Linked DNA regions of Homo sapiens: all the other regions are linked to region 1. Evidence: fine-mapped expression QTL. A gene starts in region 1. Each other region holds a variant in brackets. All regions are shown on one strand. Distances are between the middles of the regions.

Region 1 (7,658 bases):
GAAAGTTCCATTAATTAGCTTTCAGAGCAGTGGCATCATCACACATAATGTAGTCTCTGGAAAATTCCACTGTACATCCATGAAAGAGTGAGAGCGAGAGTGTCTGACTTTGTAGACCCTCTGAACTAGTCTCAGGAAACTCCAGGGATTCTCAGACCACACTTTGAGATCTCTTGTGCTGAGGAATGTTTTGTAGGTTTCCTTTTTCATTAAGCTCCTGTTTGACGTTTTGTGTGTACACATGTGATGTGTGTGCAGGTGCGCTGGGAGTTGAGGCAGCGGCACTCCTGAAATGTGTGGGAAATCGCCTGCATGTAGGTGTGCTGTTGCCGGCGCAGAGCGGAGTGTTCAGCAGCCTATGTCACATGCCATCTTTTCTCAGAAGTTATCTTTCATCCTAGTCAGATTTTAAATGAGGGTGAGTCTGTAGTTTTCATCAGATTCTTCTTTTTCTTTCTTTTTTTTTTTTTGAGATGAGTCTCACTCTGTTGCCCAGACTGGAGCCCAGTGGCATGATCTCAGCTCACTGCAACCTCTGCCTCCCCGGTTCAAGCAATTCTCCTGCCTCAACCTCCTGAGTAACTGGGATTACAGGTGCCCGCTACCATACCTGACTAATTTTTTTTTTGTTTGTGTATTTTTAGTGGAGATGGGGTTTCACCATATTGGCCAGGCTGGTCTTGAACTCCTGACCTCAAATGAGCCGCCCACCTCGGCCTCTCAAGGTGCTGGGATTACAGGAGTGAGTCACCGTGTCCAGCCATTTTCATCAGGTTCTTAAAGGAGTCCCCTAATTTCTCACTGTAGCTTAAGGTAGGGGCATACCTTAAAGTTCTTAGAGAGTTGAGAAGTTATTGTGGTTGAAAGAGTTTAAGAGAAACATATCTTATGTAATTCCATATACAAATAAAAATGTTACCTCTCTTTGTGTGTATAAATCCTGTAGGAATACAGGTTTTAGCTGTGCTCCAGTGTGTTTCTTTGCTTAGAGCTGCTTCAAGGCAGGTTTCAGTAAGCAAATGAAGCCATGTGCTCCACATTTTGGTCAATATTGATTAGTTGAATGGAACTTTGCTGCAGTTATTTTATTGAAACTAAGCAATGTGATTGGAGATGCCTTGACTTGAGAGAAACGCGTTTCAGAATTCGCAGTCTGAACGCACGTCATCCCGGGGCCCTCATTTTCTAAAGATTGTCCAGGTTTATCGATAGACTCTAACTGTGCCCCTCTCTTTCAATTGTCCCATAGATTCCCTATAAGGAGCCCCTGCTGGTGCACCAGAACTACCGGGGGCCATCTGCCCAACTGCCCCAGACTCTGGCAGTGGGGCCCCCGATGGCAGTGGGCACCTCCCCGTGAAACCTGCCAAGCTGGACGCCACAGCTCTGCACGACGACACTTTGGCCAACTCCGTGCCCCCTTCGGAGGCATGCAACCATGCAGTCCTAGCCTGCAGCCTGGGCATCCCTGAGGAACACTACATAAGCGAGGCTGTGGAAGATGCTCCCAGCTACAGAGGGTACCGGGATGCCTGCACCATTACTGGTATGGGGGCCCTTTCCCTGCCAGGGAGGAAGGGAGGGAGGTTTCAGTCACTGAGGACTAGGGAAGGAATGCAGCCACATGGGAGGGTCTTGGGGAGGTATGTGGAGAGGAACCACCAAAGTGCAAAAGACTCTGAGCTTTCGGATTGTGAGACCTCCAATCCAGAACCTGTTCTGCCAGTGAACCATTTTGTAACTTGTGTCAGTTGTTGACCTACTATCCTGACTGAGAGGTAGACAGCATTTCACTAAATTGTCATGAAGGTTAAAGATGGTAACATCCAAACCTGAGCAGCAAGCATGGCCCATCACAGGCACTCAGTGTATTGAACCCTTCCTTCTCTCTTTGCACTCAGCTTCTTCAGATATAAGACAGGTGTAGTGGGAATAACATGCACTGTCATTGTGGGATGCAAAAACAGAAAACTACATGGAGTGCCCTTTGTACACCATCAGGATTTGCACAGACATGGATTTTTACAGATACCTGTGTCAGTCATAACTCTCAGTGTCCCAGGTGGTAATCACCTAACATCTGTGCGGGCACTTAGTAGTAGAGCTATTGCTTTTTTATTTTCCCCAAGGAAGCATTGAGACAAGTGCTTGAAGCTAGCACAAGAGAGGGCTCTCAATGGAAATGGTGTAGGATGGTGTGCATAACAGCAGCAAGTGGCAAAATTATAGCTCAATCCAGTTGCATTCATATAGAAGTTTGCTTAATTTCTCATTTTTGTCTGCAGTGTTTGCTTTTGTTTGTCTGTTTGAAGTAATGCCTGATGACAGCTTAATATATGCAAGTTGGCTTCCAGTAGCTTCTCTTGGTTCTGTGTTACCAGTTAAGCCTTGAGGACCTCCTGTGTGTCAGGGGTTTCCTGGATACAGAAAGGCACAGAGAAAGCCGGGGGTCCCAGCCTGGTGCCTAGCTGCTGTGCTAGGCCCCCACACACCTCCTCTCCCTTTTTGTTAAGTGGCCCACATGTGTTGTCCTCCGCTTGTGACTGAGTCCCTCTCCCACTTGCCTGCCCCCTGAAGGACACAGTTCCAACATCTCCCTTTTCTCTACTGCATCATTCTTTTCCCCTTGCACTTGGGTCTTTCTTATTAGTGCAGAAACATGCTATGATCTCCCTCTTCGGAAATAGAATCCTTCTCAGTCCCGTGTTTCCCGCAGGCCAGTGTCTCTGCTCTTCTGTTTGCTTACTCTAGTTTTTCTTTTGTTCTCTCTGGAGTCCACTGCAGGCAGGCTCATGCCCCACCACACTGACAGCCTGGTTCAGTCCAGGGGTCTGTCCTCTGCCTTCACCTTACTTCACTTTTCAGTGGTAGTTCACACTGTTGCCAAGTCCTGTGTCCTGGAAGTACAGTCTTTACTTGGCTTCTGGGTCCCCACACTCTCCCTGTTCTTCTGCCTCAGTGGCTGCGTTTCTTCTTCTCCCAAGCCTGGGAACGTTGAAGGGCCCGGGGCCCAGCCTTTCCGCCTCTTTGCTCTTATGTGTGCACCTGTGCAGCACTTGATCTCACCCAGCACACAGGTTTTAAAATCGCCTTCTGTACTGGCCACTCGGTGGTTTCTGTACTCAGCCTGGCCCTTCCTCCTTAAGGCCAGATGTCTCAGACTGACTCCACATGAGTTTCCACTTAGATGTCTAACAGGCATGTCAAACTCAAATGACCAAAAATGAGCTCCTGGTTTCCACCTGCACCTGCTTTTCTTAGGGTTTTCCCCATCCTTGTAAATGGTGCTTTCATTATTCTAGTTGCTCAGGCCAAGAACCTTGGAGGCATTTGTGATTCTGCCTTTCTGCGATTCATACCCCAGTTTGTCAAGAATTCTGTTGGCTGTATCTTCAGAGTATGTTCAGAATCTACCCAGCATTTACTGTGTCCCAGCCACCCCCATCTCACACCTGGATGACCGCACTGGCCTTCCAGTGGGGCCTCTTACTGCTACCCTTGCCTCCCTAAAATTCTTTCTCCGCTCAACCATGAGAGTTGGCTTTTAATACAATCAGATGGTTTAACTCTCCTCCAAACTTCCAGTGAGCTCCCCTTCTATAGAGACCTGTAAGGAAGGGGCTGAATGACAGGAATCCCTCTTTGCCCCGCTGACCTGCCTCCTCTGTGCCCTCCGTGCTCCAGGTACACTGGCCGCCTCACTTAACCTTGAACTCACCAGGCACATCCAGCCTCAGGGTCTTTGGATTGCCTTAACTCCAGATATCCTTATGACCCCCTCTTCCTTCTCCAAGTGACATTTTATTTGATGCTTTTTGTGACCCCCCCCCAATACAGAGTGATCTGCCTCACCTTTCCCCATCTCCCTTTCCTGTTTAATTTTTTCCCCCAAACTTAACCATCTGCTGAACTACTGTATTTGTGTTTTGTCTCCCAAACTTGCAGTAGACTAAAGTCGCGGAGGGCAAACTCTGTGTCTACTTTGCACACTCCTGAATCCAGTGACTAACGTAGTGCCTGCCTGTGGCCAGCGCTCAGTGAACATTTGTTGGGTGTATCAATTGTGTCAATTTGTGCAGTGAGTACTATTATCCTCTTTGTGTAAGTGAAGAGTCTAAATCTCGAAAGGTTCAGCACCTTGGTGAAACTCCTGAGTGGCAGGAGTTGCATCCAGGTCTGTAGGACCCCAGGGCAAGGGTTCTTTGCTGCCTAAGAATTTAGTCTAGTTGGGGAGACAGATGAGTGAGTAGAAATTGGCTGTACACCGAGGTTAGCACAATGATAAGCACAGCACAGTAGGGCACCAAGGAGGGTGCCAGGCTGAACCTTGGAGGGGAAAGGACAGGAGAAGACCACGAGGGCTTTGTGGAGGAGGCGATGACCCAACCGCATCTACATTTGTCCAAACACATGAATTGATCCTTGGGATTCTAGTGGCATCTGTACCAGTGAAATCCAGGAAGCATCCAGCCTGTTAAAGTGCTTTCACTTTCTTTGAATGTGACAGTGGAGGGTAAAGAAATGGCAGAATGTACCGCTGAAACTTCACAGCTGGGCGTGGTGGCTCACGCCTATGATCCCAGCACTTTGGGAGGCCGAGGCGGGCAGATCACCTGAGGTCAGGAGTTCAAGACCAGCCTGGCCAACATGGTGAAACCCCGTCTCTACTAAAAATATAAAAACTAGCCAGGCATGGTGACGGACGCCTGTAATCTCAGCTACTTGGGAGGCTGAGGCAGAATTGCTTGAACCTAGGAGATGGAGGTTGCAGTGAGCTGACACAGTGCTACTGTACTCTAGCCTTGGCGACAGAGTGAGACTCTCTCAAAAAAACAAAACGAAACAGCAACAACAAAAAACACAACAAAGAAGTGGCAGAATGTAGTGCTGAAACTTCAAACCCTATAGGATGTGGTGACTTGGGGGTTCTTTGTTGGGACCAGAGGAAAGCTGAGAAACAGCTCGGTGCTGTTGTGTTTAGCACTGGCTTGGTAAACAGGAGAGTAAACACAGACACTCTTATGCGTTTAAGGGATGGGCTGTCAGGTGATGGAGAACATGCTCGGATTAAAGTTTTATTAGGCAGTCATTGAAAGGAAGACATTAAATGGAAAAAAGTTCTCCGAGAGACCTAGACTATCCCCAAGAATGCATCTGTGGCCTCCCAGGGCTTTGCCAAGTGCAGTCTCAGGACACTGCTTGGCATTCAGCCCTTGATAAATTCACTCCTCCCCCAGTTCCCAGCAAGCCCTGAGATGAACAGCAGACTTTTTGTTCCACTTTAATTTTTAGGCAAAACCGAATGCCCATCACAAAGCCCCGTTCTCCTTGCTACTCCCCTTCCCCCAACCTAGAGGTATCACATTTTTGGGTGCGTCATTTTCTGTTTGGGGTGGCTTAACAAGATGAGCTGATAGGGTTCCCAGGCTGCCTGGAGTTACATAACCCATTGTGCTTCCAGGACAGCTCACAATCTTAGGATTTGCCCTAACAAGCAAACTCAGAAAACTGCTGAGGAAGGCACGGGAGGGTGGCTGTGCGAGGTACTGCCGGGGCTGAGCTCTCATGGAGGCTCTCTCTGTTCTCTGAAGTGCCTTTGGAGTTTATGTCTGCACATGGCATTGGTTTTTCAATTCGGGCAGCCCGTCAGGGCTCAGCCTCTGCCAGGACTCTGCCACGGCAAGCTCATTCGGACAAACGCCTGTGGTAAGTTTGTTTGCCAGGTCTGTCTGCTGTCTGTTTTCTTTGTGGTGTGGTCGGAAAGGAGAAAAGACCACAGGAGAAGCTGTCTCTCTCTTGCTCCGTGCTGCTTGGGAGGTTGTTCATGGTCATGTGGTAGAGAAATTGCCATGTTGAATGATAGGCAGAGCAAAGGGACTTCAGAGACACAACTACTGCCCTCACCACCCCCCCATCTCCCGTTCCCAGGTCCCCTTGTCCCCTTGCCCAGGCTCAGTAGGTGCAAGTGACACTTGCAGGGCATGAGCACAGGGCTGAGTTGAGCCCAGACCCCCTGCACTGCCACTCCCTTTCCCTTCACAGTTCTCTGCAGTGGGTGGACAGGGTTTCTAAGGCCTCCTCCGCCTCTCCAGCTCTGATTTCTCTAATCCTATGTCTTGTCTTTATCCTGATTTCTTAGATGCTAACCTGGTATCTTGGGTCAGCAAGGAGTTTTTCAGAAGGTGAAGGACAGAGTTAGACTGTCTCCCTCCCTCTCTCCCGTTTCCCTCTCTTCCACCCTCCCTTTCTTTTTTGTCCTTTACTAAATGCTTGGGCCTGGGACTCGGATCCACACCCCAGTGATGGAGGGCTTGCTAATCAGATCTGCTGTGGCTTGTGTCTCTTGCTGTGGGGCTGACACCTCTCACTTCCTCTAAGCTGGTCAGAGTCCAGTGGTTGATGACCCATCTGGTTTCTGTCCTGTCTACACGCTGCTTCCTGAGAGCTGTCTGGGCCAGAAAACAGTTAATTCCTGAGAGAAGTGAGCTCCTGTTCCATTCCAGTCAGTTTTAGGCTTTAAAACATGTAAATCTTATTGAATAAGCCTAAAGACACTTCAAACATGCATCTTACTGAGGCAATCGTACTTATTTTTGTGTGTTGAAGCAGCGTGCACCCAGGGCCAGGTTTTTACTGGGGTTTATGTTAATTCCTGGGGTCAGAGAGAGGACTGGTCCTGCCCTCAGAGCACAGAGGTGGGCCAGGGTGTAAAGGAGAAGCTGTAAACCGAGTGAGAATTGCCTAGGAAAAATCTGCTAACAGGAGTAGCCCTGCCTGGGAGGACTCTTCATCAAAGGGCCATGGCTTAGAATTTGTTCCTTTTATTTTGTTGTGTTGTGTTGTGTTGTGTTGTGTTGTGTTATGTTATGTTATGTTATGTTATGTTATGTTATGTTATGTTATGTTATGTTATGTTATTTCGTGACTCACTGTATTGCCCAGGCTGGTTTTGAATTCCTGGGCTCAAGTGATCCCCCTGCCTCGGCCTCCCAAAGTGCTGGGATTACAGGCGTGAGCCACCATGCCTGACCCAGGATCTTTTCCTTTTCTATCACTGATTTAAGCCATAAAACTTGATGTCTTATCCTCTGAAAACATGCTCAAATAAAACATTATGGAATTCTTACACATCTTATTAATTAAATTTAAGGCCTTGTCAATTTCTCTCTAGTATAATTTTTATTTGTGTTTTCTATTGAAAATTTATAATCTAAATGGGTCTTTTATTTGGCTATATTAATGAAACAGAAAAGAATGGACAGTGAAATATATATCCCTTTTACAACAGAGTGAGAAAATGTAAATTACAATGTAGGGAATAACACATATTTTCTAAATGTGTAATTTAGAAGTTTTTTTTTTTCTCCTTCTCTTAGTGGAATCTCCTTTATTTCACAGTTGATTTGTTTTTGCAGATGGAATGCAGAAAGGGGCCCTGTTATGCTAATTTCTAGAGAGAGCATTTGATCTTTGCAAAACCACAGAAACATTCACCTCTGCCTTTTAAATATGCTATAAATGATTTGGGGGCCACCAGCTAATCTTCCTACCCTTCAGTTCCCTTATGACTAGGTGAGTAGGTAGAATATTTATCACAAGGTTTTTGACATAAATTGTGAAATTTATTTAAAATGTCATTTGTAAGTTTTTTTCCATGT
Region 2 (7,658 bases), 28 kb before region 1:
AAGGCGAGCACTGACCTGCTGTGTGTGGCCAAGCAGAAAGGGAGCAGACGAACTTAGATTCTGGGGTTGGCTCTGTCTCATTTGCATCTTGGGCAGGCCACATGTCTCTCCTCCATCAAGTGTCCTGTAACCTGGAGAACTCACCCTGGTTCACCTGACACGTGGCCCACACCATGTTAATCAGTTTGTGCTTTTATTCTTAAGTATTTGAAGGAACCAGAAAATACAACCAACTGAAAGGCGTTTTCATTTTAAATGCCTGTAAACCTGAACATGTCATTCAGTGAGCTTCCTTGTAAAGCTGAACTCAAATATCATTTCCTCCTTTACTGCTACCCAGGTTTGCCCTTCGCCCCTTGGTTGGGTTATTTTTGCCACCTTTAAGCTCTTCTGGTTTGGCTGCTGCTTCTCTTACTGCTCTGCCACAGTGGGCATTTCATTGGGAAGTGAGACTTGTGGCCGGCTTCTGGGTAAAATACTCCTTGGAACCTCCTCATCTTTAAAATATAGATAATACTCATGTACCTTGGCAGTTGTGGAGATTGACGAAGACAAGGTTTGTTTGTAAGTATGCTTTTGCCTTTAAATTTCATTTTATCATGTTCATCTTTATTATGATAACTGAGGACTGGAGGGAACCTTTATTTTTAAATTTAATTTAATTTATTTATTTTTTGAGACAGAGTCTCACTCTTGTTGCCCAGGCTGGAGTGCAGTGGTGTGATCTCAGCTCACTGCAACCTCTGCCTCCCGGGTTCAAGCAATTCTCCTGCCTCAGCCTCCCCAGTAGCTGGGATTACAGGCGCCCCCGCCACAACGCCCAGCTTATTTTTTAATGTATTTTTGGTAGAGACGAGGTTTCACCATGTTGGCTGGTCTGGTCTTGAACACCTGACCTTGGACGATCTGCCTGCCTCGGCCTCTCAAAGTGCTGGGATTACAGGCATGAGCCACCATGCCTGGCCTGGAGGGAACCTTTAAAGTCAACCTGTCCTACCTCCTGGCTGATGCAGGGATCTCCCTTTAATGTCCATTGTGGGCCTTGCCCATTGTTTGGTGGCCCATTTGAATTGTTGCGCTGAGCTCCCACCCCCACACACAACAGATCGTAAGATACGCCATTGCTTTATGTACCTCTAAGAAAGCAAAAAATGCTACAAAGTAAGCATAGTAAAGGACGATTGGCTATAAGACAAAATTCAATTTTAGAGATATTGAAATGTGAAAAAATGTGTATCTTAAGAGATTTACTCTTTACCATCTGCTCTGTGCTGCAATTTTTTTAAAGATAAAGTGCTAATTTACTGAATTTAAAATAAATCCAGGTGTGTATGCATGCGTGTATATATTTGTATGTATATGTATACACACAAATATACATACGTATGATATAAGTAGGCTTTGGACTTCAGGGAACTTTTTTTTTTTCCTTTTGAGACAGGGTCTTGTTCTGTTGCCCAGGCTGGAGTGCAGTGGTGCGATCATGGCTTGCCGTAGCCTCAACCTCCCAGGCTCAAGTGAATCTCCCCCTCAGCTTCCTGAGTAGCTGGGACTATAGGCATGCACCACTATGTCTGGCTAATTTTAAAAAATTTTTATTAGAGACGAGGCCTCTTTGTGTTGCCCAGGCTGGGACTTCAGGGCCCTGTCAAGTGTGCTTCTGTGTGTATACAGATTTTGAGATTCCCATCCCTGCTCTCCACTCCAGGATAGGACCTGAGTTAACCATATTTTAGAAAGATAATGACTTGTCTTCATCAGTTATCTTTTTGATAGTCTTTATGAATTCTAATAAAATTTTCAAAACAGTGGCTAAAAGAGAACTGTGGCCTGTTTCTCCCTGTGCCTATCAGCAGGCCTCGGGGATTTCCTTTCTTCCTCGTGGACACTTCTGTGCATTTTCCTACAAGAATATACGTGACAGGTCATGTATAGTTTTCCTTCATATTTGTGTTCTATTAAAAAAATCATCCAACTCAGAAAGCTTTTTATTTTCCAGAAAAAAATTTAAAAGTGACTTATTTCAGAGTATTTTTATTCTTCTACAGAGAGACAGCTAGCTGTGATGGAGGCTCTTCTAGGCAGGATATAGGGTAACTTAGATTCTTGTTCTGGCTTCACCGTTTGCTTGTGGTACTTCAGTTTCTTCCTCTGTGCAGTGGGCATAATAACGCCTGCTCCTTTGACTTCACAGATCATTGAGGAATGAGTGAGATTATATAAAGTAATATACTTAGTGTGGACAATGATACAATAAAGCATGGAGGACAGTGTTACAGGTACATAGCAATTCTGAAAGTGCTTGTTTGATATTAATCACTTCTTTCTTTCCCCCTGCATAAGAAATGTCTTTTCTTTTTAAAAAACATTCTGTTTTTTTCCCAATGATTCCAGAGAACCATGTCAATAAGACTCACAGGGGAAAGCCCATAGAAGGTTTTCAAGAAATCCTGTTAGCAGTGAACAAAACACACAAAAGCTCCATCCACATGGAGCTTACATTCTATTTGGGAGAGAGGGGAAATAAACAAATGAGTATATTGTAGTGTATCAGAAGGAATAGCTTCTAAGAAGAAAAATAAAGGAAGGGGATGCCGAGGGGTTGAGATGTCAGTTAAGATATGAAAAAAGACAGAGATGGCTACAGCACCACGGTGGGGGGTGGGGGGTGGTGGTGGGTGAGGGCGGGTGGTAAAGGGAGATTCCAGGTAGAGGGAATAGCAGATACCAAGACCTCTGGGTTCTGAGGAGCAGGGAGGAGAGACGGGGCAGCTTTGAAACTGTGGGACAGGAGAGTAATGTAACGGTAGAGGAGTGCCTCTTTTTCCAGGCGTGGTCCCTTAGCAGTCTCACTGGTTTATAGTCTCAGTCTGTCATTGGGAACAAGCCTTAATGTGAATGTTGTCATATTAATATCACACCTGTTTGTCAGGTCATTTTTGGCTGCTTTTTTTTTTTTTTTTTTTGAGACGGAGTTTTGCTCTTGTTGTCCAGGCTGGAGTGCAGTGGTGCGATCTCTACGCACTGCAACCTCCGCCTTCCTGGTTCAAGTCATTCTCCTGCCTCAGCCTCCTGAGTAACTGGGATTGCATGTGCCCGCCACCACTCCTGGCTGATTTTTTTTATATTTTTAGTAGAAACGGAGTTTCGCCATGTTGGCCAGGCTGGTCTCGAACTCCTGACCTCAGTTGATCTGCTCACCTTGGCCGCCTAAAATGCTGGGATTACAGGCATGAGCCACCGCGCCCGGCCTTTTTTGTTGTTGTTGTTTGTTTGTTTTGCAGTTTTTTGGGGATCTCATCAGGTTCATTTAGGGCTAAATAAACTGACCCTCCAAGGGACTTAATGACTTATGCTGAAGGACCCTGTGAAAACCTAAATGGTATGCTTCAGGCCTGGAAGCTGACTTAAAAGTGCATTTTAAAAAGTTCTTTGTTATGGTATAATTTTAGATTTATAGAAAAGTTACAAAAAGTGTGCAGAGTTCCCATACACCCTTGACCCAGCTTCCTCTAATGTTAACATCTTACGTAACCATTGACCTTAAGTTTTCAAGTGATGGGTGTGTGTCTACATCTGTGCATGCGTGCATGCACACACCCACCCACACACGCACCCCCCCATGCACACCTCCCCCACGCACACCCCCCCATGCACACCCCACCCCCCCACGCACACCCACACACACACACACAGTGCCAGGGAGGCAGCCCTGTTGTCTGTCAGCCTTTTCATAGCTCATCATATTTACACCTCCTGGATACAGAGTGGACCCTGGCCATGGCAAAAGCAGGCAAGGAGCTACTTTGAAGCTGAAGTTCCAAAGCAGGAGATACGGGGAAAACAATCAGCTGCTACAGAGCTCTGAATATCA[T/G]GTGAACCCAGTGCCACTTGAACTTTATTTAGTAGAAGATTGGCCTGAGACACTTAATATAGAAATCCCAGCCATCATGTGAGAATTCCATTCCGTGCAAGTACAAATACAAGAGAATTTGGGAATGTTCACTTTGGCTTGTGTTATGCTAAGTCATCTCACTTCTTTCCCATCTAATTTATGAATCAGAACACCAACAATATATACCAGTTTATTAACTAATGAATCAGGAGCAACAAGCCCATCCATCTACCCATCTGCATGGATTTGAGCTTTATTCAGTAGTACTTTGCCTTGGAAATGGTCCAGGTTATTTTGGAAACGGATATTCAATTCAAATGATGACAGCCATTGGCACTCACTCTGGGGCTCAGGAGGGAAACCACGCCCTTCTAGGCTATTGCTGACGCCATCCCTCCAGAATGCAGCTGTCTCGGGTGGAGGCTCTGGGACAGCTGCTTCTGGCTAAGGCTGCCCATTTGGGAGAAGGGGACATTGAAATTGCAAGAGGAGTCATGGCTGAGAGAGATCCTGCTCATATGTGTGGCAGGAATCCTACAGCAGACAAGATTTTGACAATGGACAAGTCACTCACCTTCTAACATGTCCACTTTCCTGTGGATGAAGTGGAATTTTCCAAAAGCAGGAGTACAGTGCTGCCTGTTACTCTTGTGAAACTCTCAATCTCTTGGTGAACTACTGGTATTATAAAGGAGTGCCGTATTAGCGGAGGTGCAAACAAAATGCTTCAGTGCTTTTGATTCCTTTGGCTAAGGATAGGTCTTAATTTTGAATATTTTTTTTCCTACTAGGGCCAATTTCAAAAAAAATCAAGTTTGCATTCACATGTTTAATAATTCCAGTTATACTTTTAGCATTAAAAAATATGCTTGTCTTGGAGACTATTTTTTAACATTTCAGAATCTACAAAACCAGCTTAAATACAGCATGACTATACTGCTACCCCTCTGAAAAACTTTGTATTTGAGTCCTGGCACCTCTGAGGCTTCTTCATGTTGGTGGTTTTTATTTTCCTTTTCACTGACCATGCATGCTACTCTGTGTGAAATAGGGTTTGTGAAATAGGTTGTGTCAGCGCTATCTGTATGCCTTAAAACAAAGTATTATGCTGTTGAGAAAAAGCAAAACAAGGATAGGTCTTTAACAAAGACTATTTAGGCTGCTGCTGCCTAATATAATTCTCATCAGTGAAGTCTTCACTTTGTTGGAAAACAGTGCCTGACACTCCCTTGTGTCCTGCCTGGTGGGACTTCCCTACAGCCCCTTGAGCTGTTTTCCAGGCTCTGCACTGCAGTGAAGGCGTGTTTGTCTTATGAGGGGATGTGCACTGCACTTTCACCTGTATTACCTCACTCCCCAGAGCCACCTTAGGAGATGGATGACATTATCCCTGTTTTTGAGATATGGAGGACGTGCTTCAGAAATTTTAAGAAACTCAAACAAGGTCACACTGGTAGTGAGTAGTAAAGTCAGAATTCCAGGCCTGGTTTTCCAGTACCAAATCCAGTGCTTATTCTCACAGACCATGGGTCAAATCCATCCCACCGCCTGCTGTTATAAATAAAGTTTTATTGGAATACAGCCACACCCATTCATTTCCATATTTTCTGACTGCCTTCCAGCTACAACTGCGGAATTGCAACGGAGACTGTATTGCCCTCAAGGCCTGAAATAGTTATTATTTTCCGCTTCGCGGGAAAAGTTTGCCAAGCCCTGCCCTAAGCCATTGCTGAAGGAGCATCCGGGTTTTGTCTGTCAGTACATTCCCCACTGCCCCTGCCCAACCAGGAATGCCTTTGTGATGCAGTTCTTGCTCTTTTGTAAAGGTGGGGCTGGGTGTGGTGGCTTGTGCCTGTAATCCCAGCACTTTGGGAGGCTGAGGCGGGCAAATCAGTTGAGATCAGGAGTTTGAGACCAGCCTAGACAACATGGCAAAACCCTGTCTCTACAAAAATTACAAAAACTAGCCAGGCCTGGTGGGACACGCCTGTAGCCCCGTCTCCTTGGGAGGCTGAGGTGGGATGATTGCTTGAGCCTGGGAGACAGAGGTTGCAGTGAGCTGAGATTGTGCCACTGCATTCCAGCCTTGGTGACAGAGTGAGACTCTGTCTCCAAAAAAAAAAAAAAAAGTGGTGGGAGCCACACAGTGAAAAAAGCATATGTGCCGGGGCAGCCCAGCTGTGCCTTATTGTCTGCTCTCTGGCCCTGTGGTGGGCTGAAAGTTCTTACCATACTCCCATCCAGATGTAGAGTCTGTAACCTTTCCCCTTGAATCTGCGTTGGCCCGGTGATGTATTTTGACCAATAGTTTGCGGTAGAAGTGACACTGTGTAACTTTTAAAATTGAGTCTAAAGAGATCTGTAATTTCTGTCTCATACTTTGAACACCCCTTCTTGGGATCCAGCCAGCATGTGAGAAGCCCTGGTGGCCATGTGGAAATTATATCCACGTGAGAGAGAGGCCCAGTCATCCCTTTCAGAGCACTAGAGATGGGAGGGAACCCATTTTACATGCCCAGCCCTTATTACTATCTGACCTGAGGGAGATCACAAATGCCTTCTGTATTGGGTGGTAATGATACATCACAAAAATGCGAATGCTCGCAGCCAGGCGGGCGCTGTGGCTCAAGCCTGTAATCCCAGCACATTTCAAGCCTAGGTGGGTGGATCCCTTGAGCCCAGGGGTTTGAGACCAGCCTGGGCAACGTAGCAAGACCCTGTCTCTACCAAAAATACAAAAATTAGCCAGTCTTATAACCCGGTCTCAAATGAATAAATAAATAGAGGGATACAAATTAAAAAAAAAAACCTTTAAAAAGAATTCTCTTACAGTCTGATGTCAATGTTGGAAGATTAAGAAATAAAATAAATTTTTGAACTTGCTGTCTGAGTTACCCAAATGTAATTTCTAAGAACTCTAAAATATTATCACCTAGAATCTAGGAAGCTACCATGTGATCCTAGACTAATAGCATAGAATGAATGTTGCTTCATTATGAACTTATTATGGAAATACAAATACATAATAAATACTTTAAGCAGACTATAGACTGTTTCCTAAAATACTGAAGTTAAAATATTTGTGCTAGACTTCCTGATATGAAAAGCTTTTCTCATAATGATTTGTGAATTAATTTTACCATAGAATAGTAAGGGTATATTTTTAATGGGTTAAGTAGCTATACTTAAAAAATACATGCCAGGCATGGTGGCTCACACCTGTAATCCCAGCACTTTGGGAGGCCGAGGCGGGCAGATCACGAGGTCAGGAGATCAAGACCATCCTGGCTGACACGGTGAAACCCTGTCTCTACTAAAAATAACAAAAAATTAGCCAGGCATGGTAGCAGGTGCCTATAGTCCTAGCTACGCAGGAGGTTCAGGCAGGAGAATGGCGGGAGGCTGAGGCAGGAGAATGGTGTGAATCCGGGAGGTGGAGCTTACAGTGAGCTGAGGTCGCGCCACTGCACTCCAGCCTGGGTGACAGAGCAAGACTCTGTCTCAAAACAAACAAACAAACAAACAAAAATTAGCTGGGCATGGATGCACACACCTGTAACCCCAGCTACTCTGGAGTCTGAGGCACGAGAACTGTTTGAACCTGGAAGGTGGAGGTTGCAGTGAGCCAAGATTGTGCCACCGCACTCCATCCTGGGCCACAGAGCGAGACTCCCATCTCAAATAAATAAATAAAATAAGATAAATAAAAATACAGATTGAGTATCCCTTTGCCAAAATGCTTGGAACCAGAAGTGTTTTAGAT
Region 3 (7,658 bases), 300 kb before region 1:
CAGAGACACAGCTTTCAACAACCCAAAAATAACTTACTGTGACTCACCAAATTTAAAAAGACGGAGATGATTAAAAAAAGAAAACCTTAGTTTACTATGTGACCTCTAAGTATCTCGGCTGAAAATTTTAAAGATAGAAAGGTAAATCAAAAGATATAGAGACTGTAATCAGGAACTTAATGAAGCGTTAAATCAAAGTATTTTTGGCATATGTGAAAGAGTTTAATTTTATCACATTTTTTACTGGCACTATAGCTATTTGCAAGTACATATAAAACTACAGTGTTACATATAAACTACCAAAAAAGAACTTTTTAAGAAATGAGACTAATTTAGTAACTTTATTTAAAAGTTTATCTTAAGGGAATAACTAAGGATGTCCATACAAAAGGATTTAGCCATAAGAATGTTCTCCCTGGCAAATCAATGGAAATTATTAAATGTGCAAAAGAGGACTGTAGGAATGAATTGCAATACCTTTAAATGATCGTATATCATAACCTTTTAAAATGATATTGAAGAGTTGCATAAATTGACTTAAACACACATTCGTAACACATCACTGAATAGGAGAAATATGAGCCAGCAAAGAACATAGAGTTGGGTTGGTCCAATTTCTACCAAAAAAAAAAAAAAGACTAATAGCATGACAGCAGAGAAGAGGGAATATGTCAACGCGTACATGTGTATATGTATATATATGCATAGCAAGTACGAATTTGAAAGGATATATATCAAATTTTTTACAGAGATTACCTCAGAGAGGTAAATGTTTAACTTTGGCCTTTGGTGTTCTGATTCCACATATTCTGAATTTTCTTTTTTTATTTAAATAGAGACGGAGTCTTAGCCAGAGCAGTGGCTCACATCTGTAATCCCAGCACTTTGGGAGGCTGGGGAGGGCCGACTGCTTGAGGCCAGGAGTTCGAGACCAGTCTGGTCAACATGGCAAAACTCTGTCTCTATTAAAAATACAAAAATTAGCTAGGTGCAGTGGCTCATGCCTATAACCCCAGCTACTTGGGAGGCTGAGACATAAGAATTGCTTGAACCAGGAGGCGAAGGTTGCAGTGAGCCGAGATCATGCCACTACGCTCCAGCCTAGGCAACAGACCAAGACTCTGTCTCAAAAAAAAAAAAAAGAGAGGGAGAGATGGGGTCTTATCATGTTGTCCAGGCAGGCCTTGAACTCTTAGGTTCATGCAATCCTCTAGCCACAGCCTCCCAAGCAACAGGGGCTACAGGTGCATACCACTGTGCCCAGCTTGAATTCTCTATACTACTCATATGAATCCTAAAATTTGTCACTATACAGTCTGATAACAATTAAAGTAAATTAGCATTGACTACTTTAAGTTTTTAGGTATTGTAATTATAGAAAATTGTAATGAGCTCATCCAATATATTTCTCCCCAATAAACAGCAGGAAACATCCATGAACTCTCAGACTTTTCCAGCCTTGAAAATGAAATATTTGCAGGAAACATTAACAGCTTGGAAGTACCAGAAAAATGACTACAAAGTAAACTAGAAAAATAAAAGAGTTTGGAGTACAAGGATTAGTAAATAAACTCATACCTAACCTACAAGATTTTTTCTTCTACTTGATCAGGTCTTCCAGAAGCTTCTTGGTCAGTCATTCAAGCATCTGAATTATAAAAAGGTAATCAATTCCCTACATCTAGCAGTGATTCAAGAATCACATATAAAGTACCATCTGCCAATAGTTCAAAAAGTTTCCTATTGGCCAGGCGTGGTGGCTCACACCTACAATCCCAGCACTTTGGGAGGCCGAGGCAGGTAGATCATCTGAGGTTGGGAGTTTGAGGCCAGGCTGACCAACATGGAGAAACCCCATCTCTACTAAAAACACAAAATTAGCCAGGCGTGGTGACACATGCCTGTAATCCCAGCTACTCGGGAGCCTGAGGCAGGAGAATCGCTTGAACCCAGGAGGCGGAGGTTGCGGTGAGCCGAGATCACTCTATTGCACTCCAGCCTGGAAATCAAGCAAAACTCCGTCTCAAAAAAAAAGTTTCCTATTAAGTGTTTAGGGGGAAAAATGGAAAAAGGTGGTTTTTTACTTTGATTTTTAATCAAAAGTCCCCTCTCATTGTGGTTGTGATTGTTCACTTTTAACATCACAGTGTATGGAACTAACAGTTGTTTTGGATAAAGGAATCTTCTTCTATTAAGGACATCTATGGGCAAGCAAATCATTTTAAAGATGATGACACAAAATAAATCAAGCACTCATGATGCAAATGGCTACTCATCCAAATAGCTGCTGAATAATAACCATCTAAGGACACTGACACCCAAGTAGCTAATGCAGATGACAATGTGAACTGAACAAGTTCCTTCAATACATAAACATCCACTCAAGAAAATGTCTATGATTCAGAAGAGAATAGACTCTACCACCTTGTTAGTTTAAGATGAAAACCTGGCTACAGTTACAAATTTCAAATGGAGAATCAGAGATTAATTACAAACTACAAATAACTATGAAAACATGAAGTATACTGATAATTAAATAATGTTAAACTCTAGGTTTTATTATAAGAAAAATACAGCATGTGGCTTAAACGACTGCTGGATAAATTACAAATAAATGGTACCCACATAATCTACCTTTCCAAAGAACAATCAAGCAACATTAAGGCAGCACCTTACAAATGTGTATAACACTTGAGTAATCTATTAGAGGTGAACACAAAGATGTATGTAACAGGGTGTTCATCATATCATGATGAGTAGCAACCAAAAAACAGGAGCCAAACAGTTCAATAGTGGAGGAAGAGTTAAATTATTGGTGCATCACAAAATAAATCATATAACAAGTTTCTTTTAATATCCCTGAGGAACATTTAATGACATAGTAAAATACTCATGAAAACAGCAAGAAAAATCAACACAATTTTATTTTAACTTGGTAAATGTGTGCATAAAATGCATAGACGCAGACAGAAAACTAGAAAGAGATAAACCAACATGTTAACAAAAATTATGTCTGGGTAGTGAGATTCCAGCTAATTTTGTTTTCTTCTTTAGAGTCTTCTAAGTTTTCTGTAGCAAACAGTAATTTCTTTTATTTAAAAGGAAGGGAATGGAACTCTTTTGGAGACTGGGTTTCCATTGTAAAAGACCATAATATATGAGCGTCAATCCCGCCAAAAAACAACACGTAGAATTCCTTCTCCCTGTTCAACAGGAAGCAATTTTGTATTTGCTCCTGGGTCTCTTCCTCTTCCACTCATTCTAACCTATCAACAATAAGGCTGGTAAATCTGCACCTCAAACACACATGTATAGACAGGTATAGACGACACTCACTTTTCTTTAAGTAACAATAAGACAATGATCATTGCACTAAAACCCCTTAGGAAGGCCAATATCATGACCCTACCTGAGCTGGGTCTTCTTCCAACTGCCCAGGTTCTTCCATGTCCCTTCCTCCCTGCTGGCTGTGCTCCAACTCTGATGACCTTCTTTCTCTTCCCACATCTCCCTAAGATCTCTCACACTTCAGGAAGGCTGAACCACAAAGTTCTTCCCCTAGATCTTCACATTCCAAGCTCTTTCTTATCATCCAAGGCCAGAATGCACCTTCTCAGAGAGGCCTTCCCTGACTGTTCTCCAACCTAACCTAGGCTAATAATGTGTGGCTCCACTCCACCTGCACACTGCCCCTAACAGTCACTCTATCACATACCCTGTTCTATGTTCTTCAGGACACTAAAACTATCCCAAATTACTGCGTTTTGTTTATTATCAGCCCCTCCTGTTAGGGCATAAGCACTTATATCTAGCACTTATACACTCCAAGAACTCGACAAAATTACTCAACACACTGTCTCATCTGTGAAAGATTCAGAGTTGAAAATCATTTGGCCCAAAGTAAACATTCAGGGCCAGGAATGGTGGCTCACACCTGTAATCCCAGCACCTTGGGAGGCTGCGACGGGGGATCACCTGAATCCAGGAGTTCAAGACCAGCCTGGGCAACATAGCAAGACCCCATCTCTACAAAAAAATACAAAAATTAGCCAGACATGGCGGTGCACGCCAGTAGTCCCAGCTACTCAGGAGGCTGAGGTGGTCACCTGAGCCCAGAAGGCCAAGGCTACAATGAGCCAAGATCACACCACTGCACTCCAGTCTGGGCAACCAGAGTGAGATCCTGTCTC[CA/C]AAAAAAAAAAAAAAAAAAGCAAATGTTCAATAAATTGTAAATTTTTTAATTGTTAATCTTTTTATTAAAATAGAATCTTGAACTCTAAATAGAAATTCATTGTACATTATTGAGGTGTCACAGATACATTTAAAAAACTAGAAGACAAGAGAGAGAAGATGCACTTCTCTCTATTCCTACTACTAAGTACAGCCAAAAACCCTGGACAATATATATAAAACAAATATAAGATGACAGATACATGGAAAGAAGGCAGAAGACCAGCTAGGGGCCTTGAAACCTGAGGATCAACACAGCAATGCATTCACTGAGTTGTCTTTTTGCCTCTTATATCCCAGATTGGGTGCTGAAAAATCCAAGGGTCTAGAAGCACCAACAGGTATACATACACAAATACACAAGAAAAAACAGCTCTCTCAAACCAAAGGACCAAGAGAGGGGCAGCCTGGCAAGACAGAAAATTTTTAGAAAATAGCTACTCTACTTCAGCCAAGCACCATGGAAAAACCACACCCCAACCCCACCAGCAAAGAGCAAGTAGGGAGCCTAGACTTCCAACCTCATGTGACCATGGCAAGGTGCCCCAGCATTATCCCCTGCCAGAGTGGAGTCACAAAAGACCAAGCAGAGAGCTGGGGCTTTCATCCCAACCCAACGACAGAAAGTCCTCCACCATGCTGTACAATGTTTCCCCAGTGATGAGGCATCCATTCCACTCCACCAGCATCAGTGGAGGCAATGATGAGGATCCCTTCCCCTCAGCAGCCGGGGTAGCATCAGAGGAGTCCTGGTGGAAAGCCTGACCTCGCACTCTCACCCAGCAGTAATGAGGAGCTCTTCTACCTCCTGAGGTGGCAAAAGCAGTCCACTGGGGATCTGTGCTTCCATCCCAACCCAGCAACATCAATGCAGCACCCTTCTTCCCCCTGCCAATTCAGTGTCAGAGGGGACTCTAAAATAGAAGATTCAAATAACATCCACCACCACCCAAAATGTTTTATGTGTATAGACTTTCAGTTTTGCAGGATAAAAAGGTTCTGGAGATCTGTCTCACAACAATGTGAACATATTTAACACTACTGAACTGTACACTTCAAAATGGTTAAAATTATAAGTTCTATGTTATGTGTTATCTACCACAATAAAAACTTTTTTAATGTACCAATACTAATCAAAAGTAAAAGACTGTTTATCACGCCATACAATTGCTCATTTCCTTAAGACATGTGGAATAGTAGTTATATATGATAAATAATTAAAATTATATTAACATAACAACCTATTTTACTGCTTTTGTGAAATACTATATTTGAAACTTAATCAATCCATGCCTGTGCTGAAGGTAAAACACACACACACACAAATTCTTCTAAAACTCTCAGCCTCTCTAACCACGGATTACCTGGTAAAATTATTCAAGTATTACTTTTTCTAATATAACAATAAGAACATTTAATGAGTGAAAATTTAATAGCAAAAACTAGACACATAGATTTGTTAGAAAAAAATACTGTCTCTGAGGCACAAATTTCTTAGCAGAATCTAAATCAGAATAATTAAAGACAAGAAGTGGTTTACCTCTATTTGGACTTCCAAAGATTAAGTTTACTATGCAAATCTGAGAGTTATTCATAATAGTTACTGACATTTTAAGTTTCATTATAAAAACCAAAATTTAATGTGTTTCATTTAAAGCAGAAGAAGCATGGTAAACAGTGTATTTAAGTGGTTCCATTCCACACTTCTAAGCAGTGTTACCTTCATCATGTTTTGCAAAACTCTGAATTGAAAGGTACACCTCTCTACCTCTTATAGAAAAAAAGACCTGTAATCCCAGCACTTTGGGAGGCCAAGGAGGGCGGATCACAAGTTCAGGAGATCGAGACCATCCTGGCTAACACGGTGAAACCCCGTCTCTACTAAAAATACAAAAACAAAAAATTAGCCAGGCGTGGTGGCGGGTACCTATAGTCCCAGCTACTCAGGAGGCTGAGGCAAGAGAACAGCGTGAACCCAGGAGGCGGAGCTTGCAGTGAGCTGAGATCACACCACTGCACTCCAGCCTGGGCGACAGAGCGAGCCTCCATCTCAAAAAAAAAAGAAAAAAAGAAAAAGAAAATGACTGGTTGAAATAATGCTGCATACTACTTTCCCCTCATGAGAATTCACAATCACAATACACATTAGCATATTAAAAACTGGGAAAAATTGTACAACTGAAAATATTTCTAAGTTTGAATCATTGCTTTCCAAATTTATATATAGCCAGGCCTACTTTATTTTTTACCTGTTAACACATCATCAAACACTAATATTCTCAAGCAAAGCTTCTCAAAGCATAAAGTTCAAACAAATCACCTAGAGATCTCACTAAAATGTAGATTCTGATTCAGAAGGTCTGCATGGGGCCTAAAAGTCTGCATTTCCAACAAGCTTCTAGGTGATGTCAATGCTGCTGGTCCAGGGATCACTCTTTAACAAGGGACTAGAGAAGACACTTTGAGAAAGGCTACTAGAGAGCCCTGTTTATCACTATACAGTTCTGTGATACGAATTTAGTACTTACAAACTCTACTGTATATATAATAAAGGCATATAAAGGACTAGAAGAGGATAGGTTAAAAACAGAATGGGGGCTCTATAATTTCAACTGGCAGAGTATTACAAGGAAAGGAATAAAAATAGGTCAGAGCAAGCAGAAAAATATAAAGGGACTCCTCCCCCTAAAAAAGGCAAAGGCCATGGGAGAAAGAGATGGAAGCTGGAGTTGGTGAGGCATAAGAAATGCCAGCATATAGGAAGGACTGAGACATTTTCAGTTTAACATTACTGAAATGGGACAAGTAGGCAGAAGCCATTTAAAGAATTTCTATTTTAATCACTAAAAGGCTCTTGGAACATGTTCAGATGAACATTCTGTGGTACAAAGGTTTGGCAAAGTTCAAAAAGGCCTCTTGGGATAAAAAATGAATTCTACAAACATGACATTACTTGTGGAACCACTAAAATGCAGAAGAAAACAATTTTTAATGTAGAGTAACAGGTAAAATCTAAGTCAAACCTTTTCTTGGATTAGTCTTTGAAGATGAATCCCACAGGACAACATGGCAGCGAATAAGGTCAACATGTACTGCTGAACTTTGCAGATGGCAGAGGCCAGGGAGTTTATTACTGAGTTCAGTCCCACCTTTTCAATAACATTCTGGAAGGCAGTAGGAGAATGGCGAGTGATTCTACACAAGGCCTACAAAGACAAGAGAACAGACCTGTCAGGCAACTCCAAGTGCATCAATCATTCCCCTGAAAGGTAACACATGCTTCTGTGTCAAGGAGTAGAAGGTGCTTACTTGGCTCTTTTATTACTTATTTTGGCACAAGAAAGTTGGCAATTTTCAACAAACTTAAAAATAAAACAATCTGCCTGCCAATAAAAGCTAAGGTTGTTTTAAAACACTAGAGACTATTG
Region 4 (7,658 bases), 77 kb before region 1:
TATCTGACTCCTCTCCTGGACAGAAAGGTCCATTAGGGCTAGGAATATACCCGTTTTTTTTTTCTTTTTTGACACTGGGTATCCTTCTGTCACCCAGGCTGGAATGCAGTGGCACAATCATGGCTCACTGCAGCCTAGACCTCCTGGGATCAAGCAGTCCTCCCACCTCAGGCTCCAAAGTAGCTGGGACCACAGGCACATGTCACTATCCCTGACTAGTTTTTTGATTTTTTTGTAGAGACAGGGCCTCCCTATTTTGCCCAGGCTGAGGAATGCATCTGTTTTACCCACTACTCTATCACCCTAGCCTAGTCCAACAGACACAGGCTGGGCATGGCGGTGCACTCCTGTAATCCCAGCGCTTTGGGAATCTCAGGTGGGAGAATTGCTTGAGCTCAGGAGTTGGAGACCAGCCTGAGCAACACAGCAAGACCTCGTCTCTAAAAAAAATAAAAACAAAAACCAAAAAAAATAGACACACACGCAAAACTGTCAATATATGACTTATGGATCTACTTTTTACAGTATTTCATTCATTCTTTTTTTTTTTTTTGAGATGGAGTCTCGCTCTGTCGCCCAGGCTGGAGTGCAGTGGTGCGATCTTGACTCATTGCAACCTCCGTCTCCCTGGTTCAAGAGCTTTTCCTGCCTTGGCCTCCCGAGTAGCTGGAACTACAGGCATGTGCCACCACTCCCAGCTAATTTGTTTTGTATTTTTAGTAGAGACGGGGTTTCACCATGTTAACCAGGTCGGTCTGGAACTCCGGACCTTAGGTGATCTGCCCGACTCGGACTCCCACAGTGCTAGGATTACAGGTGTGAGCCACCTCGTCCCGCCCTTTTTTTTTTTTCTTTTTGTTTTTCTTTTTTTTCTGAGACAGAGTCTCGTTCTGTCGCCCAGGCTGGAGTGCAACTGCATGATCTCTGCTCACTGCAACCTCTGCCTCCTGGGTTCAAATGATTCTCCTGCCTCAGCCTCCCAAGTAGCTGGGATTACAGACATGCACCACCATGCCAGCTAATTTTGTATTTTTAGTAGAAACGGGGTTTCACCCTGTTGGCCAGGCTGGTCTTCAACAGAAGTTGAAGTGATCCTCCTCAAGTGATCTGCCTGCCTTGGCCTCCCAAAATGCTGGGATTACAGGCATGAGCCACCGCACCCAGACATTCTTTCTGTATCTATTGACGGGGCATCTATGAGTCAGGCACTGTTGTTGGTGCTGGGACTGCAGCAATGAATAAAGCTGGTGTCAGGCATCTTTTATATATGTCCCATGTTGTATCTTAGTTAGCTTTTTTTGCTCAGCATCTACTTTTTTTTTTTTTTTTGAGACAAGAGTTTTGCTCTGTTGCTCAGGCTGCAGTGCCATCGTTCAGTTATAGTTCACTGCAGTCTTGAGTTCAGGGGTTCATGCAATCCTCCTGCTTCAGCCTCTTGAGTAACTGGAACTACAGGCATATACCTTCATACTTCCATAGCCAATTTTTAAATTTTTCTTTTGTAGAGATGGGGTCTTGCTATGTTGCTTAGGCTGGCCTTGAACTCTGAGGCTCAAGTGATCCACCCACCTTGGCCTCCCAAAATGCTGAGATTACAGGTGTGAGCCACCACTCCTGAACTCAGCATCAAGTTGGCCAATGGGAGATAGGAACTGGTGGCTAAATATTTCCTCCTCTGTCTTACATTCTGCGCAGTTCCTCAGGGGGCCTCAGTGGGACTAAGCTCCAGTTGTTTACAGAAATTTTATATCCTTCAATAGGCTTTCTTTCTTTCCTGTTTCATTCTTTCTGGTCCCAATTTCTTTTTCTACCCATATCCTACGGGATCATTTTCCAGAAGAAAGTATCTGCCCATGAGTCCTTCTCCAATGTTGCTTTTGGGGGGAACCCCAGCTAATATAGCTAGCCTTTTAATTGCTTTTGTTGGGTCACTTTCAACATTTCCACCTTGGGTCCCTGGATGCATTCTGGGTTCCTAATGGGTAGGGATCAGATATTCTATTTTGTATTTTCCCACAGTTACTAACGAGGGCCTGGCAAATGCAAGTAAACATAGATTAATTTCGATTTGATTCAACAAAAGGAAAGAATACAGTGGCTATCTGTGGCTCAAGGGAAGCCAGTTGCCTCTGTTGCAGCTACTTCTGCCTCATGCTGGATGAAGGGAGGACTTACCAGGGCAATTACTGTTTTCCTTTCTTGTATCCATTCTGCTTCCCTCCCAGGTTCCTGTTCCACTGGCTTCCAGCAGCAGCAGGTCAGCAGCTGCTCCAAGTAGTTCATCAGCTCAGTCAGGCCCAGAACTGGGGCTGTCACTGGGGCCCCGCCTGCCATCTGCTTCCTCCAAGCTGAGAGTAGGAGAGGAAAACTGGTCCCTACTCCTCAGGGGCAGAATCCACATGCCTGTCATCTGGCACTACAGAACAAATCAGGGACTCCAAAGAATGAATGACTTCAAAATTTTCTACCAGCCTTAACTGAATCTCATAGATATAGGGAGTGACAGACAGCTGGTAAAGGTGTAAAGAAAGTAGAACATATTTGGCAGACAAGCAGTAGTTAACGGGTCTACCGCTAATTTGATGCTCCTGTGGACACACACTACTTTTCTGCCCACAGTTTCCAGAAAATGAGTAGGTTGGACTAGATGATCTCAAAGAACCCCCAGCTCTAGGATTGTTAAATTACAGAACTGGAAGGAATCTGATCGGTCAGTTATACTTCAAATAGTCTAATTTTTTTTTTTTCTTGAAAGCCTTCACTGTTGGTAACAGCACCATGTCTATTCTAGATCCACTATGAGAGCTCCAGCATATCTGCTCTGGCATGCTCCCTGATGGGCATGCCCATTTACATACAGTTTTTTTGTAATTAAAAATGATTTTTTTTGTAATTAAAAATTGCATTGAGATAATGGTAGATTCACATTCATTTCTAAGAAATAATATATTTGGGCCAGGTGCGGTGGCTCATGCCTGTAATCCCAGCACTTTGGGAGGCTGGGGCAGGTGGATCACCTGAGGTCAGGAGCTCGAGACCAGCCTGACCAACATGGTGAAACCCCATCCCTACTAAAAATGCAAAAATTAGCCAGGCATGGTGGTGCACGCCTGTAATCCCAGCTACTCAGGAGGCTGAGGCAGGAGAATTCCCTGAACCTGGGAGGTGGAGGTTGCAGTGAACTGAGATTGTGCCATTGCACTCCAGGCTGGGCAACAAGAGCAAAACTCCGTCTTGGGAAAAAAAAAATACACACACACACACACATATATATATTTGGCCTAGTTTCCCCCAATGACAACATTTGCAAAACCTTAATATGATATCATAACTAGGATATTGACATTGATACAATTTACCTATCTTATTCAGATTTTCCCAGTTTTACTTGTACTCATTTGTGTGTATATTAAGTTCTAGATAATTTTATCACCTGTACTACCATACTCAAGATGTTTAACAGTTCCAAATTCACAAGGATCCCTTGTGTTGCCCTTTTATATCATACCTGCTTTCTTTCCACCTTACTTCATTCCCCAACTTGATGGATTTTTCCAAATCTTTTTATTTGGAAATAAGTTCAAACTTACAGAAATGTTCAAGTACACTCTATATGCTGATTCACTGATAATATGCACCTTACCTTTATTGCCCACTTGGCTTTATCATTTTTTCCTATCAAGATTTTTTTTCCCCTGAATCATTTGAAGGTAAGCTGCATACATTATGACCTTTACCCTTTCAAGATACTT[T/C]AGTGTGTATTTCCCAAGAATTAGATATTCTTGTACATAATTACAGTGGAAGTTATCAACATCAGTACATTTAACATTGATCCAATACTTTAATCTCTTACATGGATTCTGATTTTGTCAGCTGGAATGTCCGTGATGTATTTCCCCTCCTCTAGCACAGGATGCAGTCTAGGATCAGGCATGGCATTTAGCTGCCCTGACTCTTTTGCACCCTTTAATCTGGAACATTTCCCAAGCTTTCTTTTGATTTTAATGACCTTGACATTTTTGAATAATACAGACCCTTCCTCTTTTTAATAGATGTTCCTCATTTTGGGTTTGTCCGATGTTTCACTATCATGATTCAGGTTATGCATTGTCCCCAGGAATACTGCATAGCTGATGTGGACATGATATCCATCTGCTCTCATTGGTGATGTAAATTTTGATCACCTGGTTAAGATGCTGTCTGCCTGCCTCTTTGTATAGTTACTATTTCCGCTTTTGCTACTAACAGGTCTAAACCATCTATGGGGAGACACATCAACCCAGACAAATATCTGCCAGCCAGTAACAGCCCCCTAGAGTAAGCATTCATGGATGATTCTTGCCTGAGCCAATCTTCACTATACACTTGATGATCTCTTCAAGTCAAGTCTATGCCAGTATGAGAAATCAGGTTTTGCAGGGTTTAGTTTCCTTACACCTTTGGTTCTGGTCTGAGTCTTCTTCAAGTCCTCCCAATGTCCTCTATGACCCCTGGGTTGAAAAGAAGTAGACTCAGTAGCCTCAACTGGAAATGAGATCATGTGGGTTGTTCCCTGTTAAACCGTCCACAAGTGATTTGCATAATAGAGTGGCCTGTGAGCTCTTACTTCCTGGATCGGTTCCTGATCCCCTCTCTGCTGTCCGCCAGCCCCCTGCCTGTCACCCTTTGGTGGCATCTTAGTCCAACAGCCAGTTCCATCCCCTCCAGCCTTCCCCCCGTCCCCGGCTCCATCCTCCCTCCATTTAAGCCTAAGGGCGGCTTTGCTAGGAGACAGCCCGCCCTGCAGGAACAGAACGCCTGGACTTCCACTGTGTTCACGACAATCAGCGCCCCGGGCCGCGGGGGTCCCATCCTTCTCTTAGACTGACTCTGGAAGGACCCCGAGAAGTGCTAGAAGTAAATAAGCGCTCGGGGAGGGATGTGATCAGCTTTTCCGGATCCAGGTCTTTACCGGATACTTCTCTGTGCCCCACGGCGTGGGTAAAAGTGCAGGGGCAGCCGCGGGCGAGGAAGGCGGGGCGCGGCTCCAGGCGACTAGGACGTGGCCGGCGGGCATCCTGGAGGGCGGCCCGCAGGTGGCGGCGCGGGGCGGCGGGCGGGGCTGGGAAGGGGGAGGGCTCGGCGCGCGTCGGGCGGTGACGGCAGCGCGGAGGGGAGGTGCAAGCCGCCCGCTCGCGGGGGAGCCATGGCGAGAGGCCGCGCGGCGGCGCCCGCAACAGTGCCCGCGTCCGCAGCAGCGCCCCCGCCCGCCGCCCCGGGGCCCACCCGGCCGCCGCCCCCGCGCGCCCCGAGCCCTTGACGCCCGCGCGCCTCAAGCGAGGCGTCCCCCAGAGTGGGGCCGCGCGCGGGAGAGCCGGAGCGCAGCCTTAGCGTCCCCGAGAGTCTCGAACGCCCCGACGACCCCCGCGTCTCGGAACCCCGGACTCCGAGCCCAGGAGCGCCAGAGCGGCAGGCGGGCAGCAGGAGGCGGCGGCGCCAGAGCGGAGCCCCCGCGAGTGCCCCCGTGCCGCCCGGCCGGCTGCAGCGGAGGGAACCGAAGCCGCCGGGCGGCCGGGGCCGGGCCGAGAACGACGCGGAGGAAGCCCCCACCGAGGCCCCCCGGCACCGCGCCTGCTGCCGGGTTGCGCTCCGTGCACCTCTTGCGGGTAAGCCAGGGGTCCGCTCACCCGCGCCGCCTGCGCCTCGGGCCCAGGGGCTGGGGAAGGACACGGGTGTTCTGGGAGTGTCCGCGTGAGATAGTGGCGGCGTGAGAGGCCGGGCGCCGGGACCCTGCGGGGACAGCCCTCCTAATGCACCGGCCGCACCTGCAGGAGGCCCTCGGAGCCCGGAAAAGTGCCCCTAGGGCATCGTGTCGGCCACGCCGCGTGGCCTGGATTCCGCGCTCCGGCACTCCGAGGTGACAGTGAGGCGACCTTCAAAGAGCCTGGAGCTGAGCGCGGGCAGCACCCCGATTCCCACTCACCCGCAAAACTTGATGAAAATGACATCATCTGAGCGTGTCAGAGAGCAGAGAGCCTTTAGAGCCCTCCTTTGCATCCTTGAGAGTTAACAAGTTTACTTTGTCACTTTCTTGACCTGATTTTTAAAGTTCTTTTCTAGTCTCCAAGGTCAAGCTCTTGCAGGTAAAAACAAATGTAATGAACTGTATCGTTTCTTCTTTTGTAAAGTTGTGTTTCAGGAAAGATGTTAAAAGTCGGCCTGCTCTTGAGGCTGGTGCTGGGTGCCCCTTCCGCTTTAAGCTTGCCTGTTTTAGAACCCGTGGCTGCACTTGTTCAGACACTGAAATTAGCGTCCGCTTTGAGAGCCTTCAGAGTATTCGTCGTTGGACCGCTGATTTTTTTTTTTTTCTGATATGCTTCACTGGAACTTTATTTGCTTCAAAAGTGTAAACGTTGTCAATACTGTCTGTGAGTGTGTATTCGGGACTGGTAACCTTTTCTGGAGGGTCTTTTGTTTATCTGGAAGGAGAGTGGAGGTTACCATAGGGAAACGGTCTAGTTCCAGGGTCCTTTCCAATTTCCAACTACAAGAGCAGCGAAGAGGAAGGTGCTCAGACTAAGCTCTGATTAGCCCTGGAGCCAGTCTGCACTGGGGAGGGTCTCCCCAGATTGAGTGAAGGGACAACAGGCTGGGAGCTTGACTGGTAGGTTTGGAGAGTTGGACCTGGAGTGACAGATGGCGCCTTCCCCTCTGTCTCTCGGTTTGGAATGGTCATACTCGGTTGCTCTTTGATCTTGGACCTCAGCTTTGTCACAGAGGTTCCCAGCCCAGTGTAGCCTAAGCCAGCTGGAAAGCTGAGCCCGGCTCTGGGGGATGCTGAATCGGTTTAAAGCCCTTGTCTCAGGGCTGCGAGTTTGGCAACAGTTGGGTTTCAGCTTGGCCCCAGCACCAGCCGTTTCCTGTTTGATGCCCCAGGGACCAGTTTCCCATCCCCAGCGCTCGCTTGAGGGTGTCTCCACTCTGGCTGTGTTGCTTCTCCTTCTCTGTGGTCTTGGAGTGGGAAACCTGGACTGAAATTCCAACTCCTCTCTATTGGCTGTGTGACCTTACTTAACCTCTCTGTCCTGCTCTCCCCTCTCTGGGAGACAATGTTTTAAATGGAGGTGTCTGTAAAAGTTTGACTGAATGACATGGGAGCGTTTTCAGGTCTCCTTCCAACATGATTGGGTTTGTAATTTGGTAAGCTTTTTGAGCCCCAACAGGGATAATAAAGCATATAATAGTAATTATTGTTTTATAGGTTTATTATGAGGGTCAAATCAGGTAATATAAAAGAGCTTTGGGCCGGGCATGGTGACTTGTGCGTGTATTCCCAGCATTTTGGGAGGCTGAGGCAGGTGGATCACTTAAGGTCAGGAGTTCGAGACCAGCCTGGCCAACATGGTGAAACCCCGTCTCTACTAAAAATACAAAAATTAGCTGGGCATGATGATGGGCACCTGTAATCCCAGCTACTAAGGAGGGTGAGTCAGGAGAATAGCTTGAATCCGGGAGGCAGAGGTTTCATTGAGCCAAGATCCCGCCACTGCACTTCAGCCAGGGCGACAGAGCAAGACCCCATCTCAAAAACAAAAACAAAAACAAAAAACATAAAAATAAAAGGGCTTTCAAAAATAATAGAGCACTATTCACATTGAATGGAGTTCTTAAACTTTCAC

The links.
Region 2: its variant is fine-mapped to the expression of TRAK1 in tibial artery (GTEx, PIP above 0.99). The same link has a PIP of 0.9 or more in aorta, atrial appendage, fibroblasts and subcutaneous fat.
Region 3: its variant is fine-mapped to the expression of TRAK1 in whole blood (INTERVAL, PIP above 0.99).
Region 4: its variant is fine-mapped to the expression of TRAK1 in whole blood (TOPMed, PIP above 0.99).

Annotation. Positions count from the first base shown.
Region 1 is chr3:42,085,855-42,093,512 of GRCh38, forward strand. TRAK1 (trafficking kinesin protein 1) reads left to right here and starts at 5,503. Exons shown (of 16, transcript NM_001042646.3): 1 at 5,503-5,706. The coding sequence starts at 5,616.
Region 2 is chr3:42,057,679-42,065,336 of GRCh38, forward strand. It overlaps a transcript of TRAK1 not described here. Among named protein-coding and RNA genes, the nearest start is that of TRAK1, 30 kb to the right of the region's middle. RefSeq lists a silencer at 4,105-4,324. The variant T/G (reference allele first, on the strand shown) is at 3,875.
Region 3 is chr3:41,782,408-41,790,065 of GRCh38, forward strand. ULK4 (unc-51 like kinase 4) reads right to left here. Exons shown (of 37, transcript NM_017886.4): 21 at 7,254-7,436. Among named protein-coding and RNA genes, the nearest start is that of ULK4, 180 kb to the right of the region's middle. The variant CA/C (reference allele first, on the strand shown) is at 4,191.
Region 4 is chr3:42,008,473-42,016,130 of GRCh38, forward strand. It overlaps LOC107986077 (a long non-coding RNA gene), which reads right to left and starts at 5,097. Exons shown (of 2, transcript XR_001740668.2): 1 at 4,952-5,097; 2 at 3,546-4,490. It also overlaps a transcript of TRAK1 not described here. RefSeq lists enhancers at 4,780-4,849, 5,830-5,969, 6,363-6,864 and silencers at 5,030-5,149, 5,240-5,309, 5,350-5,509, 5,570-5,639. The variant T/C (reference allele first, on the strand shown) is at 3,753.